Linked DNA regions of Homo sapiens: regions 2 and 3 are each linked to region 1. Evidence: fine-mapped expression QTL. A gene starts in region 1. Each other region holds a variant in brackets. All regions are shown on one strand. Distances are between the middles of the regions.

Region 1 (11,408 bases):
AAAGAGACTTATAGACCACTCAAAGTGGTCTATAACATAACAATGCCCCTGATTCTCTAATAAAAACAATAAGATACAACAACCAGAATTATCCACACTAGTTTCAGCAATCTGCTTGTGAGATGTATTTTTCCATATTTCCAAGCAGGTCTACCACCTCTCTCCCTTATTTCATTAGATATAAATAGGATTTGGTTGAACTGGGTTTCTGCTTTAAAGGTATAAAATGTTCTGGATTTACTTCTAACTACTTCCTGCTCCCACCCCCCAACTACCCCTGCCAGTTCAAGATTCAAGGTAAATATAATTAGTAGCAATAATAGCTAATCATAACTCTATTGCCTTATTTGAGGCAAATTTAATAACTATCCTCCACCCACTCATCATTTACTAGCTACATTAAAGACCAAGATGGAACAATGTATGGACAAAGATTTCTCATAGGAATGCACAAGTATTGAATGTACAAGTATTGCAATATTTTAAAGTTTATTTTCTGAGAAAGATGAAGGTTGATACAATTAGAACTTGCTTGAAACAACAGTTATAGTTTGAAACCAATAGTCAACAGTCCCAATTTCTTATTTCTATCTTTTTCCCAAATGAGAGAAAAACAAACAATTACATGGTGATTGTAATTCAGCTTCAAGCCTTTAAAAGGAGACTCAATACAAAACCTACTGGCATTTTTTTAAGGAATTAGAAACAGATGGAAAGCATGATTCTTCCTCTGGAGGGTTTGACATTCTTTCTGCAAAACAGATTGGAAAAAAGACAATAATTGCCTCTAAATCCACCCGTTGTAGGTATGCATCTCCTATTGGGCCTTCTAATTTGCTCTTCAGATGACTTTGCATACTGTCTGTGGTGAAGATCTTGGGTTTGCGGGGGGCAGACAGGCCTGATTTCAAATTCCTGGGTCATGACTGACTTGGGTGACTTTGGGGAAACTATTTAATCTCTCCATGCTTCAGTTTCCTCATACTAAAACAACAGGTATACTTAAGCGTATCCATTCAGTTTTGTGAGGATTATGTCAGAAAATGTACTTAAGGTACTTAGCATGGTATTTGGCACGTACTAAAAGCTTGATAAATTATACCACCCATGATTACTTGTATACGCTATTGATTATTAGCAACAGTTATAGTGAAAACTAGTAATAGTGATTAGGGGATACATAACTAACCACTCCCAAACTTAGTGGCTTAAAGTAACAGCTATTTCTTCAGCTCGTGCTCCTGTGTGTTGACAATTTGGGCTGGTCTCAGCTGGGTGGTGCTTATGTGGCTTTTGGCTAGGCTGACTTTTGAATTCTTGTTTAGCTGGGTGACCAGCAGGGGCTGACTGATATATGGTGGCCTCATCTGGGATGATTAGGAGGATTGGCGCCTCTCTCTTCAAATAGAAAGTTTGGGCTTCTTCACCCTTTTTAAGTCTCTGCTCACATAATGTTTGTCACTGCCTCTTTGGTCAAAGCAAGTTACAAGGACAATGCAGACTCAGAGATGAGGAAAAAATTATCTCTTCGGGGGAGGTATCCCCAAATCAACTGCAAGAGTGTAGATATAGCCAGAGGTAAAAAAAATCTAAGCGATTTTTCTAATCTACCACAAAGATCTCCTTTCAATACTTCAACTGACCTCTCTGTGATGCTTGCCCTTTATGTTTTTCCCCTTCCTCCCTCCCTCTCTTCCTCCAATTCCCACACTTCCTCAAATATTTATTAAATAAAATATTTCATGTGCAGGAGATACAGCAATAAATAAGATTTGATACCAATTGTCATAAAAGTCTTGTAAAAAACTCACTGCCTAGCATGAGACCATATTTAGAAGATTTTTTTCTCTCCTTTCAGCAGCTCCCCTACACTCTGTGTTAAATGCTAAAGCTAGCTAACATTTTAGTAAATAACAATGAGAGTTAATGCTTTCCTCTAATTGTTTAAAATGATAGTGTTTCTAAGGAAGGGTTTCCAGCTGTTTTGTCTGATTTAATCAAGAACTCTTAACCTGATTATCTCAAGATTTTGCTCCACCCATTTGCAATTCTCTTTATAAAGCAGAGATGACTGAGACATTTGGCTCATGACATGATCGGGAGTGTCTGCCTTGCACAGTGTCCTAGTTGGCACCGAAAAGTTTGGGCAATGACCTTCTGGATTAGAGGCTGTTAAAGGGTAAGCTGGCTGGGTGTGGTGGCTCATGCCTGTAATCCTAGTACTTTGGGAGGCCGAGGCGGGCAGATCACCTGAGGTCAGGAGTTCGAAACCAGACTGACCAACATGCTGAAACCCGGTCTCTACTAAAAATACAAGATTAGCTGGGTGTGGTGGCACATGCCTGTAATCCCAGCTAATTGGGAGGCTGAGGCAGGATAATTGCTTAGACCCGGGAGAGGTTGCAGTGAGCCCAGATCATGCCATTGTACTCCAGCCTGGGCAACAAGAGCGAAACTCCATCTCAAAAAAAAAAAAAGAAGAAGAAGAAAATGTAAACTGAGGCATAATAAAATTTTAAAGAGTTTATTTGCACAAATAGCGATGCATGAATCTTCGGAGGGAACACCAGGGGAAGGTTTCTATAGGATGGACATAGAAGTAAAGCAAATAAAATATTTGATTGATTATAATTATACAGTCCCCATACTTGGTTTATTCTGTTAGAAAGTCCCTAGTTATATAAATTTGTTGATAACTTCTGATTGGTTGAGCTTAAGTTCTGTTTTTTCTTGAATTTCAGCATTTACAAGAAATAGCTCAAGTTAAGTTTTACTTACATTTGCAAATCAAGCAAGGCTTAGTTCACTCACAAGGCCTAACTGGTTTTATCTGCTCAGGGGTTCTTTAGACCTGGTCTGCATCTTAATTTACTTTAGCAAGACTTATCTTTTTTGTATGTTTTCATAAGTGTTTCCAATTCCTTTGTGGGGAAAGCAGAATCCAAACTCAGGTTTTCTGTGTCTAAAGTCTGTGTTTTTTATGCCTCATAAGAACTGGAAAGCCTTAAGTTATGATTAATCAATGGTAAAATGAAATGGAATGAAATGAAAAAAAGGGCATATTATTGATATGTATTGTGAGAAAAAAACTAAGCAATGAGAGCATCAGATTGCATCATTATGACTTTTTTGGAATAAGCTTTTAGGAGGAGTGAATCTATAGCCTTATTAATTATTTCCTATAAACTGTAAATTTGCTGGCAATTACCTTTGAAGCACTAAAATGCATGCTAATTAAAAGTGAATTCTCTCAGTGCAGGATTTAGAAATTGGAACAAATACTACACTAAACTGGAAACAGAGCTATTTTGGACAATTTGAGCTAAAAGCCAATGCTCTAATAGGATATCAACAACGACCTTTCTAATATTATTTTGACCTCTTATTTTCTGAGAAGGAATAAAAGAAGGGACAAAGAACTTCTATTTTTAATGGCATGTATTCTGAAAATGTGCCAGAAAACATAAAAAAGAAAGTACTCTTCTATTTAAGTGCTAGTGAATGTCTTTCTTGATTTGAACTCAACATTGGCTTTTGAAGAGTTTAAACAAAATAAACAGGTACTATTAGTAATGATTAATATATAGGTAATGAGGTAACAAATGTCCCAGTCCTGACCAGCCTATATGTATAAATAAGGACAAGTTAATGCCCACATTACCTTGGTTCTTTATCCCACCTGCACATGCAGGCCTCAGCAGCCCTCCTTAGGATCCACCACAGTTACTGGGAGTCCCCAATATCTGCTATGTACCGCAAGAAGCACTAGGGCCCTTCAGAGACAGGATGGAGGTATGCAAATTAGCTCTGGAACTTGAAAGAAACACCTTAAAGCCAACTTAGAAGTCTTGGAAGGTCTTTTTGTACTTAGTGATATTTGAAAATAATTTGTTTCTTTTTTAAAAAAATCAGTTGCAAAGACTGCAGCAATCACATTCCTTTTTCATTGTACACTGTCGTCTTTCTGTTCAAAGCCCTTTTTTTGCTAATTTTATTTCCCTATTCTCACTCCCTTTCCCTTCACCTCCTTATATATCATTGTTGAGATCCATGTTTTCTACGTGCATGTTTTTTAAAAAATGACATAAATAGTACTGTGCTATAAATATTGATGCTTCTTAATTCTGCATTTTTTTTTTTTTCGAGACGGAGTTTTACTCTTGTTGCCCAGGCTGGAGTGCAGTGGCACGGTCTTGGCTCACTGCAACTTCTGCCTCCTGGGTTCAAGCGATTCTCCTGCCTCAGCCTCCCAAGTAGCCGGGATTACAGGTATCCACCACCATGTCTGGCTAATTTTTGTTATTTTAGTAGAGACGGAGTTTCACCATGTTGGCCAGGCTGGTTTCGAACTCCTGAGCTCCAGTGATCCACCCGCCTTGGCTTCCCAAAGTGCTGGGATTACAGGCGTGAGCCACTGAGCCTGGCCAATTCTGCATTTTTAAGATCAAGCCATGTTGCTGATGTGCATCCACAGTACGTATGAATCCACCATGTTCTGCAAGTGACAAACGCCTAGGTGGCCTCCAACTCCGCATTGCCATGAACAACACGTCAATTAACCTTTTTATCCATCTTCCTTGTGGACCCTGGTGAGAAATTTTCCAGGATATATTCCCAGAAGGATGATCTCCAGGTCATAGGGCATACTTAATTACACCAAACACTCACAAGGACTTTGGAAGTTAGCTAGAGCAGGGGACAGAAAAGCCCATTCCAGCAGGGCAAAGAGCATGGGCAAAAGAATGGAAGAGTGCTACAGCAGAGTGGTTTCTGAGAACTGTGCACTCATTAGGACCAGGGGAAGCAAAGCGTAAGTTGCAATGTAGGGGAACTGAAGAGCTCTCAATGTCAGGCCTTGAAAGGCTTCCTGTGCTAAGCTAAGGGCTTTGAACTGTAGACTGAACACTCTACTGAGCCATAGACAAGTGTTAGCAGGTGAGAGGTCATAGTCCATTTCCATTCCTATAAAGGAATACCTGAGGCTGGGTAATTTATAAAGAAAAGAACTTTATTTGGCCCACAGTTCTGCAGACTGTATAAGAAGCATGGTGCCAGTGTCTGCTTCTGGTGAGGGTTTCAGGGAGTTTCTACTCATGGTGGAAGGGGAAGGGAGGAGGCATCACATGGCATGAGAGAGGGAAAGGAGGTGCCAGACAATTTTTAGCAATCAGATACTGCAGGAACCAACAGAGAACTTATTCATTACCTTAAGGAAGGCACCAAATTGTTCATAAGGGATCCACCCCCATCACCCAAACACCTTCCACCTAGGCCCCACCTCCAATGTGGGGGATCAAATTTCAATATGAGATTTGGAGGGAACAAATATCCAAACCATATCAGAGGTATCATTAGATTTGCATGTTAGAAAGGGCACTCTGCCTGCCCTGCACCCTGACAAAAGCATCACCTCAAATACCAAGCTCAAACACTAAAGTGGCTCAAATGCCAAGGCAGTGTGTCTTCTCTTAAAGGGATCTGGTGACTCGTCTCCATGTCTACCACACATAGTGTCCAGGACAAGAGCTGGGCAGTGTGGGCACCAAGAGAGATGGCTAAATCCTCGTTCCTGTCAGCCCAGACTGGGCTCCAAGAGAGGAGCACTGACACAGAGGGGATAGAAAGGGGAAGGGTGTTTGCAAAAGGGGATACACCAAGAGGGGTAAGACCAAGTACCAAAGATGACGGCAGACTCTCTGCTCTCAGAAGTAGGGGGTAGGGGGCCGGGCGTGGTGGCTCACACCTGTCATCCCAGCACTTTGAGAGGCCGAGACAGGCAGATCACTTGAGGCTGGGAGTTTGAGACCAGCCTGGCCAACATGACAAAACCCCGTCTCTACTAAAATTACAAAAATTAGCCAGGCGTGGTGGCATGCACCTGTAGTTCCAGTTACTTGGGAGGCTGAGTTAGGAGAATTGTTTGAACCCAGGAGGTGGAGGCTGCAGTGAGGTGAGATTGCACCACTGCACTCCAGCCTAGGCGACAGAGTGAAACTCTGTCTCAAAAAAAAAAAAAAAAATCAAAAAGGAAGCGGGGGCTGGCTGTGGTGGATACACCGGCAGAACTCGGATCCAGAGGATAGGTTAGGGAAAGAGTATGGTAACATTGCTACCAATGTGCACAAACTAGGGAAAAAAAAAAAACCACGTAGGTACTGTATATATAATCAAAACATTATGACACTATTTTTCCTGACATTCAGCTGTCCTTCCTCAGAATCTTTGGCTGCTGATTTTTATTTCTGGCAACAATACAAAACCAAAAGACCAAGAGGATTAAAAACAGAAAGAAATGAAAAACAAACAAACAAAAAAACAACCAGTATGTGCAGGACAATTTCAGGGCCTTTGGGATCTGCATCTTTTTCAAGGTAATGTAAGCAGAGATGTCTGCCTTTTGGAGTCATGTCTTCCCTTGGCTCCTGGGGCACTGTATCCTGTGGATCTCGTCTCTCTGTGCCTTCACTGCCTCCACATCTTCCCTAAAAGGGCTCTCTTTGACACCCAGCTTCAGCTCCTGTCCCGGGACCAAAGATTTCCAAATCTCCCACCCTGAGGTCCCTCAGCCCACCTTCATCCTGGCTTGCCCAGCTGCCTTCAGATTCATTCACTCGGATGTCTCCCTCTGATACCACCTCAAGCTCAATATGTCAAGGAGAAACTCACACCTTTCTTCACACCCCTTCCCTAAAACAGCATTTCTTCCTGACTGGTCTACTGCTCTCCAGCACCACCACTTTCCTTGTTCCAACCTTGGAGTTACATAACTAACAGATGCCTCTCTATTGCTCCCAAGTCAGCAGCCAACAAATCCAGGGATTCTTTTCCAAAGTAAGATTCAGTTCTTTCTTTTTCCACAGCCACCACCAAGACTGAGCACCTAACACTCTCTCCTGTATTGGGGCCTTCCGATTTGGCTGCCTACCTCCACAGTTTCTCTGCCACACCATTCCCCCTGCAAGGCCCTGCTTCTGATAATTTAATGTTACTGTTATGCTTTTTGTAAAAATCACAGAACAGTTTCTTAAAAGACAAATTCCAAGGTTGAATGTAAAGTTGTTTATCAGTTTTATTTACCTGTTTTTGTTTTCATACTCTTGAATAAAATCCTTTATTTATATATTGAATTAATATACTCTGGCCCCCACCTGTGTGCCAGCCAAGGATACATAAACATGAACAGAATATGGCTTTTGCCATTTTCTGAAAAGCAAATAGGCCCATGGTAAAACACAAGCACTCATGACAGTTTATTTAGGATGCAGTGAGAAAAGTGCTGTAGCAGAGAGGAATCAAGATAATGCCAAAGTCTTAGGGAGAAAACTGGAAGCATGAAAGATTTTATAGGTGATAAAATATGCAACAGGGCATTAAAACATGAATAAGCACTAGGTAGTTTGGTCTTTACTGTTAGCAAGGGACAGTCTCTCTTTTTTTTTTTTTTTTTTTGAGATGGAGTCTTGCTCTGTAGCCCAGGCTAGAGTCCAGTGGCCCGATCTCGGCTCACTGCAAACTCCGTCTCCTGGGTTCAAGCGATTCTCCTTCCTCAGCTTCCCAAGTAGCTGAGTGAGAATATAGGCATGTGCCACCACCCCCGCCTAATTTTTGCATTTTCAGTACAGACAGGGTTTCGCCATGTTGGCCAGGCTGATCTCGAACTCCTGACCTCAGGTGATCTGCCCACCGCCCACCTCGGTCTCCCAAAGTGTTAGGATTACAGGCGTGAGCCACCGTTCCCAGCTGGACAGTCTCTTTTATAGGTACAGTACACACTCTCCTCTCCCCAGCTGCCATGACTCACTCTAAATTACCCTTCATCCTCTCCCCAGCCTCTTTTAGGACTCCCCTAGGCTTTGCTAATTCAAATTCTGCTTTCTTCCAAGTCCACCTCAAGCCAAGACTAATTTCTCCTCAGCGCTTCCTAGCTCTGATCTTCATGTTCTTCATCTTCTCCTCCCAGTACTGCACAATATCATTTCTTAATCAGAAGGTTAGCCCTACTTTTTAGGACAAAGGTTCTCAGTATTATCATTGTATTTAAATCATCTGTATATGTGTTCGTAGATTTGGCTCAGCACCTAGGAATCTGCTTTTCAACAAGTCCCCAGGGGATCCAAGCACAAAAGGATCCTGGACCACTTTGACCCACTTTGAGGAAGGCTGTGTTAAACCTCTGCGGTTGGCTTTTATATCTCCATATGGGCTGTCCGCAGCCCACGGCGCCTAGCATAGTGTAGGTGCGTTGCTCAGCTCTCTGGCTCCCGGTGTCTGCTCAGCTTGGTGACTATTAGATACCTCAATTATTAATGACACCCAGAGTCAAGAAGAGTAGCTCAGCCAAGTGCACAGAGCTGCCCTCTCCAGAGGAGACTAACTCCTGAGGGATAAGGTCGCTCTGAAAGTCACAAGAGCAAAAGGAAATTACATTTTCTGCCCTCTCAAAAAATGAGCAGCCATCACCCCAAATGACCTTAGTGCATCTCAAATAAACCATGCTTTCAGAGTATGCAAAACGCACTGCAAGTTAAACCGATTGCAAAAGAAAAAGCCCACAGGTACTCCGTGCGCTCAAAGCCATCATCCTCACAAACGTAAAGTGATGCACTCCAAATAGAGATCAAGGAAAACGAATGCCACGCAGGTCACCAGGCTTGGAAAATAGAAGGCACCCGAAGTTGTTCTACGTGGCTGTCCCCAGCCACCCATTCCACCCGCTCGACAAGGGATCCTGGGCCGAGCCCGGCCATCCGCGGGGGCGGGGCCGGGACGGCGGCGGCGCGCTGACGTAACGGGCGTGGGTCGTCCGTCGCGCCGCCCGGCGAGGAGTGGGCTGGCGGCGGTAGCTGTCGCCCGCTTGGTTGCGTGACCGCGGGGTCCGCGTCCGCTCCCTCCACCCTTCGCCCTTCGCCCTTCGCCTCGTTCCGGCCTCCGCGGCCCAGCAACGGCCGTCATGGTGCCGTCGGCGCTCCCTGCGCGGCCCCGCTGAGCCTCGGTGCGGCGGCGAGCGCGGTCGAGATCGCCATGCCTACCCGTGAGTGGCCGGCCGAGGGCCGGGGGCGTTGGGAGGCGACTGCCTGCGCGACGCGCTTGGGCCGGGTACTCCTCCCGGGCGGCTGGGGAGGCTGGGCCGCGCTGAGCAGAGCCAGGAAGTGTCTGCGAGCGGCGGAGTTAGTTTCGTTTCGGCTTAGCCTTCCGGAGATGGCGTGAGCCCGTTGCACGGATCGGGAAACTGAGGCCCGAACGTTAAGGGAACTGCGGGGACGCGCTGTTAGGAGGCGGCAGAGCTGGTGGTAACCTGACCCGTGGGATTTCAAAGTTAAAGCCCTTTTCCCACGGCCACACGGCTTCGTGGGACTTTATGGAAATATTGAAAATAACTGCGGTACCATTGTCAGTCCCTTCTCACCTCGGGCCGGACGTCGCTAGTGGACGCGCCGGCCCCGAGTCCCTTCCCGCGGCCGCCAGACAGACCCCCGACAGCCTAACTCGGCGTCCGTATCGCCGTCGGGGCGGCTGAAGTCGGAGCTTTCTGTGGAGCTTGTTAGGCAGAGGCACCTCGACTGTGGCTTTTGGACCACACTTCGGATTCACCCGGGCAGATGATTAAAAATGCCGGTTTCGGGACCCGCCCTATTCCCATGGAATTAGTCTGGAGCTTGGGCCCCGGAGTCTGCATGTCTAATAAGCGTCCCTGGGGTTACCAAGGCACCCCAAAGTTTAAAAGTCACTCGGTGTTGGAGGATTTTTAGACAGACGCGATACTACAAGTACTGCTAATGACCTATTTTAAAATGACCCAGATAATCGCAGTGTGACTTTATAGCCACTGGTCAATGTGGATATGTGCAAACTAGGGAAGCTCCTGATCTTGGGTAGAGAGGAAGCAACTTTGTCATTGATTTGAGAATTCAAGTAGGACTCCTTTGACTAAGTGTTCAATACTATAGAATCTTTACACACTTGTGAATATATTTCCTAGAATTCATAACTACTTCTAGTTGTCCTTGTTTTGTAGCCATCTGGGACGCTGAATTTCCAGGTCAGTCTCCAATGCACGTTTCGTCTAGTGGTGGGAAAAGATGAGTTATTTCTTGATATTATAAAGATTGATATTTTCCTGATATTTAAGGATATTAAATTTAAATTGATATTAAAGATATTTAAATATCTTTTTGAGATTTAAAGATTTTCCTGTGGCAAATCTTTACATAGTCCTGATGTAGAGATTACTTTTAACTCCTCATACATGTGTGGGTACTGTGGATTTTGTTTTCTTCACACACTACTGTGTGTCCTTAACTCACGTTCTTGGACTTCGCATCCAGTAAATATGTCCAGTTTAAATTTCTGTTTTATTCCTTTTGGCTGGAGGAATATCATTTACAATCATCTTCATTGTTATTGCCAGTTTAGTACTTCTAAATTCATGTTCACGTTATTCAGTGAATATCTGAGACTAGCACTATGCTAATCTTTTATTTTCTGAGAAACCAAAGGGGAGGAGGTAAGCACCTATTGAAAGTTGAGGCTTCAAGTAGAATTTATTGGTAACATGCCAGAATTATCCTGTGAAATAAAATTTTTAGTTATGTTCTAGGGTTATCTAGCTTCACAGAGTGGATATAGTAAACTCGTTTCTTTTCAAATGTTGAGTTCATTCTGCAAAATGATTTTAGGATGGGCCATGGTGGAGTTTACATAGTTAAGAATGCAGATTTCACACCCTGACTGGAAGACAAGTGAAATGTTTGTTTTATCTGTCATTGTTAATATTTGTCATGGTACATTTTTTATGACTGAATAAAAATGTGCTGTGGATTGATTGGGGGTACCAGTGTGAGGTGAATAGTGTTCATATTTGCCTTTTCTCTCCTTTGGCAGTCACAGCTGCCGAAATTGCTGGGATAGTGCAGTGGACAACAATATTTCTTTGAAATTCTGTTTGTAGAATATATATCCAACACAGAGATGGCAAAATTGTTATTCTCTGTAGGAATTTAGGAGGAAGTTCACAGCTCTTAGGAGGAAAACTGTGCTCAGATAAGCTAAGTGTTTTTGTTTGATTGGTTGTTTTAATGTTAAATGGTTGAGAGGCTTAGTGATAAGCCCAAGCCAGTTAATCCGTACGAGTTTTAATTAAAATCAAAGGGTTGGAGGTGATCACTGTGGTCTCTCAGACTCTACAATTCCGAGAGCAACCCTTGCTGTAAGTCATAGAATTATTCTACTCTTGCTATTTTGTTGCTTATTTGGAATATTGGTACTCATTGAAACTGTTGTTAATAACTAGAATCCAGTGAAGCATGCAGTAACCCCACTGGTTAAGCAATGATATATCTCATGAATATTAACAGCCACTTCACTAGAATTATTTTGGAGATCCGTAGACTCTTTGAGAAAGCAACCAC
Region 2 (5,000 bases), 95 kb after region 1:
CAGTAACAGAAAACCAAATACCACATGTTCTCACTTGTAAGTGGGAGCTGAATGATGAGAACACACAGACACATAGAGGGGAACAATGCACACTGGGACCTGTTGGAGGGTGGAGGGTGGGAGAAAGGAGAGCATCCAGAAAACAACTAATGGATACTAGACTTAATATGTGGGTGATGAAATAATCTGTACAACAAACCCCCATGACACAAATTTATGTGTATAACAAACCTGCGCATGTACCCCTGAACTTAAAAGTTAAAAAAAATTAACTGGGCACGGTGGCACATGCCTGTAGTCCTGACTACTCGGGAGGCTAAAATGGGAGAATCACGTGAGCCCAAGAGTTTGAGGCTGCAGTGAGCTCTGATCACACCACTGTACTCCAGCCAGGGTGACAGAGAAGAGACACTGTCTCAGGAAGAAAAAAAAAAAAGAGAGAGAAAGATGAAGTGTTGCCACATGATACAGTAACTCTGCTGTTACACTGATTCTAGACCTGAGCTTCCCTACTGTTTTGGGGGAACATTATAGGTGTGTCTGGGTACTGTTCTCCTTAGCTCTTCAGGTAGCTGGAGAGGGCCTGGGGCAGTCTGAGCCTGCAATATGAGCAGGCCCTTCCATTTATCTCTGTGTACCATGCATGCATTATAATTTAATGTGTGCAGTGAGGTAGAAAACCTTGGGAACTCTGCATTAAGCAGTGGGCTGCATTTGTTTAACAATTATAATTAGGACTGAAAATGATCTGTTTTAGAAAACTCTATTGGTAGTATAGAAGGGAGAAACATACTAGAAGACCCACTTGAAAGCTATACTAAGAGTTTAGGTAAGAAAAGATGAAGATTTTGAACGATGACACTCTTGAAAATAAATAGGACAATGTGGAGATAAAGATGGCTTATTTAGAGATGCGGAATTGGATTTAGAACATGTCAAATAGAATTGATTAATAAGAAACTGGAAATGTTGAACTCAGAAAAGGAGGTGCCGGAATCCTGCTCAGTCACACAAGTATTTATGGAGTACTTACTAGGTGCCAGCTGCAACCCTAATAGTACCTGGGAACTCTTTGAGAGAGTTAGAAGTCCTGGGATGTGACCTGGGTGAGTACATTCTTTTTAGGACTGGGAGTAGAACAGTAGCCAGCTTGGCATCATTGTCACCCTTTCTGAATTCTCTTCTGTATCATAAAGGAAAAATTGGAACTATGTTTTTTCAGAATCAGAGACTGACAATGAAAAGCACTCAGAAAAATTTGCAAGTAGAAGAGGAAAAACTATTATCTTTGAAAGACAGTGTAGCATTCAAATGGGTGGAGATCAGACTAGAAGCTTCCAGAGCTTCTTGAGAATTACCATCTCCATGCTGCAGACTGAGACTATCCGATGGCTAGCCTAACTTTTACTCACTCAGCTTTCCAAGGGTTGAATCAGCCTCTAATTCTATATGTTAGAATACACAAAGTGACTTCCTTTTTTCGACTGTAATCATGATTATTTGATATTTTCCTACCATCCTGTACTTTCATCACACTTTAATAATTTGTGTGATTTTATTGTATATTTTTCCTGTTAAACTGTAAGCTGCACGGGATGTGTAATGTCTATTCAGCAGACTGTCCCTAACACCTAACAGGGTCTCTAATCACTTCCTAGATTTGTTGAGTATTGAATGCTAAAGTAGAAAAACAGAAGTAGAAAAGAAGGTATGTAAGGACATTATGATCAACAAATTCAAATGTTCATGAAGTGGTTAAGCAGAAAATGGGCTAGGAATAGCTTTTGAATTTAGTGATTTGGAAGACCGTGGAATTTTATTTAAAAGCGCTGTCAGAAGAGTGGTTGGGGTTGGGATTATAATTACAGGACTTCAGCATAGTCAGTAGTGAAAAATCAGAGCAATTTGTTCAGACTGTACAAATGAATTGGGGGCACAAAAGTAGATTAGCTAGAGCACTCAGGTAAAGACAACATCTTTCTGGAGAAGTGGTCAAATTATAAAGCAAAATAACAACAGCTGATGGAGATGACTGAATGGACAATGCTGGAGGAGATATTAATTGAAACAGCAAATTCTTTCAGCCCACAAATTGTAATGCACTGTAAACACCTTTAGACATTGCTTCCCAAACTGTCATCCTAGAACCAGAGTTAGCTGACAGCTTTCACTGTTTCGTGAAAATATTAGAGATATAAGGGCAATATTGTCAGTTTTCATTTAGGCTAAATGTATTAAGTTTAGATTATGTACTTCCTTCATTTGCTGTTACATTGACTTGCTTTTTTTAATTAAACTATTTGGTAGTGGTTGTTGATGTTGCTGTCCTAAATGCCCCTTTTTGAAAAATAAAAATCCGATAACCTTATTTCAGTTCACCTCATCAATTTTACTTTTTAATCTGCTTCACGAAATGTAAAAGTCCGAGAACACGCTGCTTTTATGTATTTAGAAGGAACAAAAAAGACAAACTGTCTGAATTTTTTGACAGTTTTTGAAATCTGAAATAAGTAGAGTTTATAAATGAAAACCAACATAACATTTCTAGCAAATAATGGGAAGAAAACAATTTTATTTTAGATGAAGATCGACTTTCTAGAAGAAAAAGCATTGTGGACACCGTATCCATTCAGGTGGATATTTTATCCAACAATGTT[C/T]CTTCTGATGATGTGGTAAGTTACTGAAAGTTTATGGTAGAGTACTGTCTTGGTAGACATCATTTAAAAGAATTTTTTGCCTTCCACACTTTCGAACAGGAGGAAATACAACTCTAAATTATCCTCAAATCAACTAAATTATTAGTAGAAATTAATCTGATTTAGCTTTGAATTTATTTATAATTTATTTTACTGAACTCATTTCAGCTGTCTGTAAAGATATATAAACCTAACATTATATGTTATGATGTCAGATTTCACATTATAATTTAGTGTAATAAAAGGAACTGTAAAGTATAAGATTTTTTTGCTAAGAAACTTTATACAAAGCCTGTCATTAAATTAGTGGGCCCTCTAGGTCCTACTTATTTTTAAAAATTTAGGAAATGCAAATTACAGAAATAAATAGAACTATACATCCTCATGTGAAGCCAAATGCTGACTACCTTTGAAAAGTTTTAAAACTGCATCTATAAGGGAAAATGTTTTAATTATTTTGGATAGTAAGGATGTTGTTTAAGCTGTGTCAGTGAACTATGTACTCTGTAAGGACTGTGGCTTATTTAAAACATCATAGATTTCATGCTCTCCTCCCGTTTCAAAAAAGCACAAGAGTGTACCCTCCTGACTTATAGGGGAAAAAGCAGCCAGTATTCTCTAGGACTTATTCTACACAAATCACCAGAGAATTTTTTCATAGTCAAGTAAAAATGCCAAAATGCCAGCATGTCAAGTCAACCTCCACCTTGTGGTTTATCCATTGTTTGCCTTCCTAAGTATTTTATTATTTCTCATTGGTACAATATGCATAATTAAAAGAATATCCATATAGGGAAAGGGAAAGGAAGTTAGCTGAATTATGCTTTCTCAAGCCTCCCTCCTACCCCCTTACAATTCCTATTGATTTATTTGTCTTCAGGTACTAAACCTATTTGGTGGCCAGAGTACAGCCAACTGACTTATGTTTTCTATGCCATTCAACTTCCCATTACATAGAAGTTATGTTTTATTAAGAACTTATCAGCACGGCATCAAGAGTAGTTGAAGAAGCACTTAGTGTTCATTTTGAAACTCAACGCATTAAGTCTAAAGTTTCTTACCAGTTTAAGGCTTAATAACAACTTTTCCCAAATTCACCTCTTTCTTCAGAGCTATTTAATTTATACACTCCTTACCAGTAAGAAGAGTATCTTGCTAGTTCTGTCTTTTAATGATTATGAATTTGCCACTATTACCTTTCTAGGGAAGAAATTCATCCAGAGTCTTAGATTATAAACTTAATTTTGTTAAGGGGACACTATGTGTTATTGACTGGTATTTTCACCTTTCTCCTTTTGTTAACTATTCTTACTTCTTTCAAAAATATATAGAGAACACTTGAAACTGTTGGAAAGAGTCAGTCTATTTTGATAAAATCAACTGAAAAAACATTTGCATAAAGACTCAATGTAGGGGAAAGATTCTTGACACAAATCTTACATTAAAAGTCTGTTAATATTTTTATTAACTTTTACAAGATCCTGTTGTTTTTCATTTACTATAAGTCCTAAGTCAAATATGCCTCACACCAAGCATCTGAAAAGTTAAGTACAGTTTAGTGTCACATTTGCTTGAGCACATTTGAGTTTCAGATTCATTTACCATTGTGGAATCTGCTTTTGGATATTAGAGATGTTTGTTCAAATACCAGAAGACAGAATAATACTATCTTCTAGGCTAAAACTAATTAATTACTTTCATATAATGGACAGGAGAAATTCACATCAGATAGATATTTTACCAGTTAATGGTGCAGCAGAATATCAAACTATTTTCTTAAAATGAATCAGATAAGAACATTGCTCATAAAAAATAACTTTTTTGTTTGATCAAAATTATTTATAGTTTTATATGTATAATCCTAGTTTATCCTGAGATGTATTTGCTTTTGCTTTTTAAACTTATAATTTAAAAAAAAAGAGAGAGAGTCAGAAGGTTGTTTAGATGGAGACCATAACAAACTTCTGTTTCCCTAAACTCAAATTGTTACTCTAGTCTATTGAAATACCTGATCCACTTGAGATCTGCCAGTTCTGACATTTGCAATTCCAACCTTGGCCTACTGAGAATCATTTGGTGAACTTTTTCTAAAAGTTGCCATATATAAAAAGATGTATATTATTATTTCTTCTAAATAATGCATTATTTCTTCTAAAAATGTGCTGATGCCATAAAATGTATTATTGATATTTTTATCATAAAGCAGTTGATTTTATACCTTTTACATATCTCAAAGCAAGAGGGAGATTTGAGAGACTCAAGGTAAAAGGTATTTTTAGAGAGTATAAATTGGTGGTTGACTTT
Region 3 (5,000 bases), 100 kb after region 1:
AAAAAAAGACAACCCTTACATTAAATTCTAATAGATAAGACAGATCAAACCAAAACTTTAAAGCATTGTGTACTTAATAATTAATCAGCTTAATAGTCACAATTATACTTTGTCTCTTAAGTTACATTGATATTATTATATATAGATACCTAGAAAATAAACCATTCTTAACATTTTTTTCTTTTTTGCAGGCAAATTTGCTTCATGATAGACTTGCCCAAATATTGGAACTCACCATACGGTAAGGGTTTTGTTATCACAATAGCAATAACACACACACACGAATAGAAACTGACAGACCCCTATGAATTTGTGGTTCATTATGTTTAAGTTATCATGTTAAAGTAATGCTTTTCATTTAGGATTAACATAAGATCATATAGGTGATCCTTTGCTTAATAGTGATTCTGTTTTTTAGGCAGAGTCTGATACCCTTTCTTGACTAGTTGTCCTCTAGCTTTTTAGCTTCTTTTTTAGATTATTCATTCCTTCCTGATGATCTCTTAAGTACATCTGGGTAATTTAAAAAAGACCCATATTCTAATATTATGCTTAATTAGGAAATTGCTCATATTGAATCGTTTTGTCCTGCAGAAACTGCATTTTAATATGTCAGCCTCATGGTTCTTTTCAGGGCAGTAATAAGTCTACTTATGCAGATAGCTCATTTGAATTATTGAACTTTCCTTTAGTTTTTGTACATCATATTCATTTGAGTTCTGTTGTGAATTATTATGCTCTTTGATTATCCTATGTCTATACATTAATAAGAAATGTAGCACCTGAAGGAAGGAGAGGCAAACTCTAGGTTCCATCTAAAGAAGGAACTTCCACATAGTCTTACATTGACTTCAGTGTGGAAACCTGCCTTTGTGAGAGGTGGCCAGTAGAGATGTCTATGCTTCTGGAAATTTTTTCTATATCTGGCATATCTTTCATATTTTTAACTTGATTAATTAAGTCTGTTTTTCTTCAACCCTGTATTATATTAATATTAGAGACAGGTAAATGCTCTAGGCCACTTGCTTTTTTGTTTCAGTCTTTTTTCTGCTTTCATAAGCAAGGCACATTTTTGTCATTATATATCTTACTCTAGACATTTCCCTCCCATTCCTGCTATACTCTCTTAAGTTGAGAATCACTCATTTACAAAATTTAAGAACAGAAAATCAGACTAAAATATTCAATATGTGCTAGACAAGGGGTCCCCAACCCTCAGTCCAGAGACCTGTACTGGCCCATGGCCTATTAGGAACCAGGCTCCACAGCAGGAGGTGAGCAGTGGGCAAGTGAACATTATTGTCTGAGCTCCGCTTCCTGTCAGATCAGCGCGGCATTAGATTCTCATAGGAGCAGGAACCCTATTGTGAACTGCTCATGCAAGGGATCTAGGTTGCATGCGCCTTATGGGAATCTAATGCCTGATGATCTGAGGTGGATCAATTTCATCCTGAAATCATCCCCCCAGTCCCCATCCTTGGAAAAACTGTCTTCCACAAAACTGGTCCCTGGTGCCAAAAAGGTCGGCGACTGTTGTGCTAGACTTAGGATTCAATTAAAATTGCTGGGTGTGGGCATTTACTTCTTTGATGACTAAATGTCAAACATTTAATAGTAAATGTCTACTGTGTACTTGATCTTATGCTACATGGTTTATATCTATTATTTCTGCTAATCCTCACCATAGCCCTGAAAGGTAGGTAGACACTATTTTTTTGATTTTTCAGGTGAAGACACCAAGGCTTAGAGAAAAGTAAAATAATTTGCTGAAGGGCATACAGCTAATGAGTGGCAAAGTCAAAATTCAAATCCATAACTGATGTTCTTAAAAGGAATGTTGCTAGAGATCACCATATCACATTTAGTCAAACTAACATAACTATATGAATTTAATATTTTAGAATAAGTATTATAACTAATTCTGTTTCATTGGTACCACAACTACTACTAATACTTACATTCATTGAACAGTTACTACTAATAATTAACATTTTTAAACACCTATGTTGTTCTAAGCACTGTGCTAAATGTATTATTTTATTTAATATCTGCAACAGACTCTAACAAACAGATAGTGATTATTCTCATTTTACATGTTTGTAAACAGACATACATGGAAGTTAGGTAACTTATACAGGGTCACCTATTTAGGAAGCAGTAGCTCTGGAATAGCTTATGGAGAAACTAAATAGACTTTATAGAAATGTGTCTTCAGAGTTTTCAGGTCCTGTCTGGTACATTTTCTCTTGTTAATTTGCCTCACCCTAACCATCAGACAGTGGAAAGAGTTTGTATCCTCCATAAAAGAAACAGAACAACACAATATTATACTTCGCTCCCACTGTTCTTTCATTTACATTTTAACCATACCTGAGTATGGTTAAAAAAAAAAACAAGAAAGGCAAAGAAGCAGTAAAATACAGTGAGAATAAGCAGCCTCACAGATAACCCAGTTATTGGAATTAGTAGAAAAGGCCCTTAGAACACCACACACCCACACCCCCCACCCAGGCCCCACACACACACGTCAAAGAATTTAAAGGACAAGATACATATAGTTTGGAGAGAAATGTGTGTGACATTGCTTATTCTCACGATCGTCTCCTGTTTCTTTGCATTATAATTGCAAATTTTAATGTTCCTCTCATAAGAGTACTAAAACATAACTAACAAGAAGACAAAAATGCAGAAAGGATATAAGATTTGAACCATTTCAGTCAATTTAAGTGGCCTTTAGAAAACACAATGCTAGGCAAATACAGAATATAGATTCTTTTGAAGTGCACATACAACATTCACAAAATAGACAGATGTGGGACTATA[G/A]CAAGTGTAAGTAAATGTCAGGAAACTGACATGTTAAGACATCATATTGAGTATGTTCTCTTGCCACAAAAAAAAGTATAATGCATTAACACATATCTAGAAAAATTTCAAATATCTGGAAATTAAAAGACACCCATACCTCAAAGAAGAAATGACAGGACGAATTAGAAAACATTTTAAACTGAAAATACCTATCAAAGTTTTGTAAGATGAAACTAAAATCGTGCTCAGGAGCAATTTTATATCTTTAGATGCTTTTGCTTGCAAAGAAGAGAGATCTGAAAGCAGTGAATTAATGACTTTTGGTGAGACATTAGAGAAAGAAGAACAACATAAGCTAAACTAAGTATATCAGAAGTCAATGAAACAGAAAATAGGCAAACAATAGAAAATATTAACAAACCTAAAAGTTTGTTCTTTGAAATGGTTGATAAAATTGGTAAACCTCTGGTCAGTGTTAAGGAAGAAAAAGAGAGAAAACACAGATTACCAATATTACAAATAAAAAAGAATTATAGATAATAAAGGAATGTTATACACAATTTTATGACAATAAATTCAACACTTTAGATGAAATGAGCAAAAATTATTGAAAGTCAAAACTAACTAAAATTGACACAAAAAGTAGTAAAACATCCAAATAACCCTATAACTGTTGAAATAGATTTGCAGTTTAAAAGCATCCTACAAGAAAATGCATTTAACTTCACTGCTTACTTTTATCATACATTTAGGTAAGAAATAATACCAGTTTCATACATATTCAGGAAACAAAGGAGGTAGAAACATTTTCTAACTCATGAGGCCAGTATAACTTCAACACTTAAATGAGACAAGGATATTTTAAGAAAAATGAAATTATAGACAAGTACCCCTCCTGAATATAGTCACAGAAATCTTTATCAAAATGTTAGCAAATGTATAAAACTGATGATATGGCCTAAATAAATGGGGTTACTATGAGGAAAGCAAGATCAGTTTTACATTAGAAAATTGATCAGTCAGCAAAATTCACCACATTAACATAGTAAGAAAGCAAAGTTGCATGATCACACCAGTAGGAAAAAAAGCATTTGAAAAAGCTCAATGTTCATTTAAGACAAAAATTATCAGAAAATTTGGAATAGAAGGGAACTTAATCTGATAAAGAGTAATTATAAAAAAATCTATTGCTGATGTTATGTATAATGGTGAAAGTCTGATGCCTTTCACCTAAAACTGGGTCAAGGATGTCTACTCTCACCATGTCAACATTGTATTGAAAGTCTTAGGTAAGTAAAGTGAAAAAAGGAAAAATATAAAGATGAGAAAGGAAGAAATAAAACTATCTTTTCACAGATGACATGGTTGTGTATGTGGAAAATCGTAAGTAATCAAGAAAAAAAACCCTACTAGAGTTAATACATGAATTAAATGAATTTTAGTAAGGTCACAGGATTCAGGGTATTCAAGGTCAGTATTCAAAATTCAGTTGTATATCTATATATTAACAACAAACAATTGCAAGAGTAAATTTTTAAACATAGCATTAAAAAAATTAGCCATAATTTAACAGTATGTAAGATTTCTGTTATGAATATAAAACATGAATGAGAGAAATTAACACCTAAACAAAGGAGAGATATACCATGTTCATGGACTGAAGGATTAAATATTGTTTATATGCTGTTTCTTTCAAGTTGATCTGTAGCTTCAATAAAATCCCAATCAAAACCCCAACAGACTTTTTTGTAAAAACGTATAAATTGATTTTAAAATTCAGATGAAAGTACAAAGGACCTGGAGTAGCTAAACAGTTTTGAAAAGGAAAAATAAAGTTGAAGAATTTACACTGCCTAATTTCAATACTTGATTTATAAAGCCAGAGTAGTCAAGACATTATTGGTATAAGAGTACACAAAGAGATCAAGATAACAGAATGGAGAGTCCTATCAAAAACTTAAGTGATTTTTGATAAAGGAATCAAAACAATTTAATGAGGAAAAGAAAATATTTTCAACAAATGTCCTGGAACAACTAGATAAGCTAAAAGAAAAATACTAATCTCAATCCCTACCTTCCACCAAACACAAACATTAATTATTAAGTTGGGTAATCAATGTCTATGTAAAAGCTAAAATCAAAATTTCTAAAAGAAAACATAGGAAAGAGTCCTCTCAGTCTTAAAATGAGCAAAA

What was found.
Region 2: its variant is fine-mapped to the expression of EFR3A in whole blood (TOPMed, PIP 0.96).
Region 3: its variant is fine-mapped to the expression of EFR3A in whole blood (INTERVAL, PIP above 0.99).

The regions. Positions count from the first base shown.
Region 1 is chr8:131,895,292-131,906,699 of GRCh38, forward strand. EFR3A (EFR3 homolog A) reads left to right here and starts at 8,802. Exons shown (of 23, transcript NM_015137.6): 1 at 8,802-9,031. The coding sequence starts at 9,022. RefSeq lists a silencer at 8,699-9,178 and an enhancer at 9,749-9,798.
Region 2 is chr8:131,993,826-131,998,825 of GRCh38, forward strand. EFR3A (EFR3 homolog A) reads left to right here. Exons shown (of 23, transcript NM_015137.6): 19 at 2,581-2,672. Among named protein-coding and RNA genes, the nearest start is that of OC90, 63 kb to the right of the region's middle. The variant C/T (reference allele first, on the strand shown) is at 2,658.
Region 3 is chr8:132,003,045-132,008,044 of GRCh38, forward strand. EFR3A (EFR3 homolog A) reads left to right here. Exons shown (of 23, transcript NM_015137.6): 22 at 192-241. Among named protein-coding and RNA genes, the nearest start is that of OC90, 54 kb to the right of the region's middle. The variant G/A (reference allele first, on the strand shown) is at 2,824.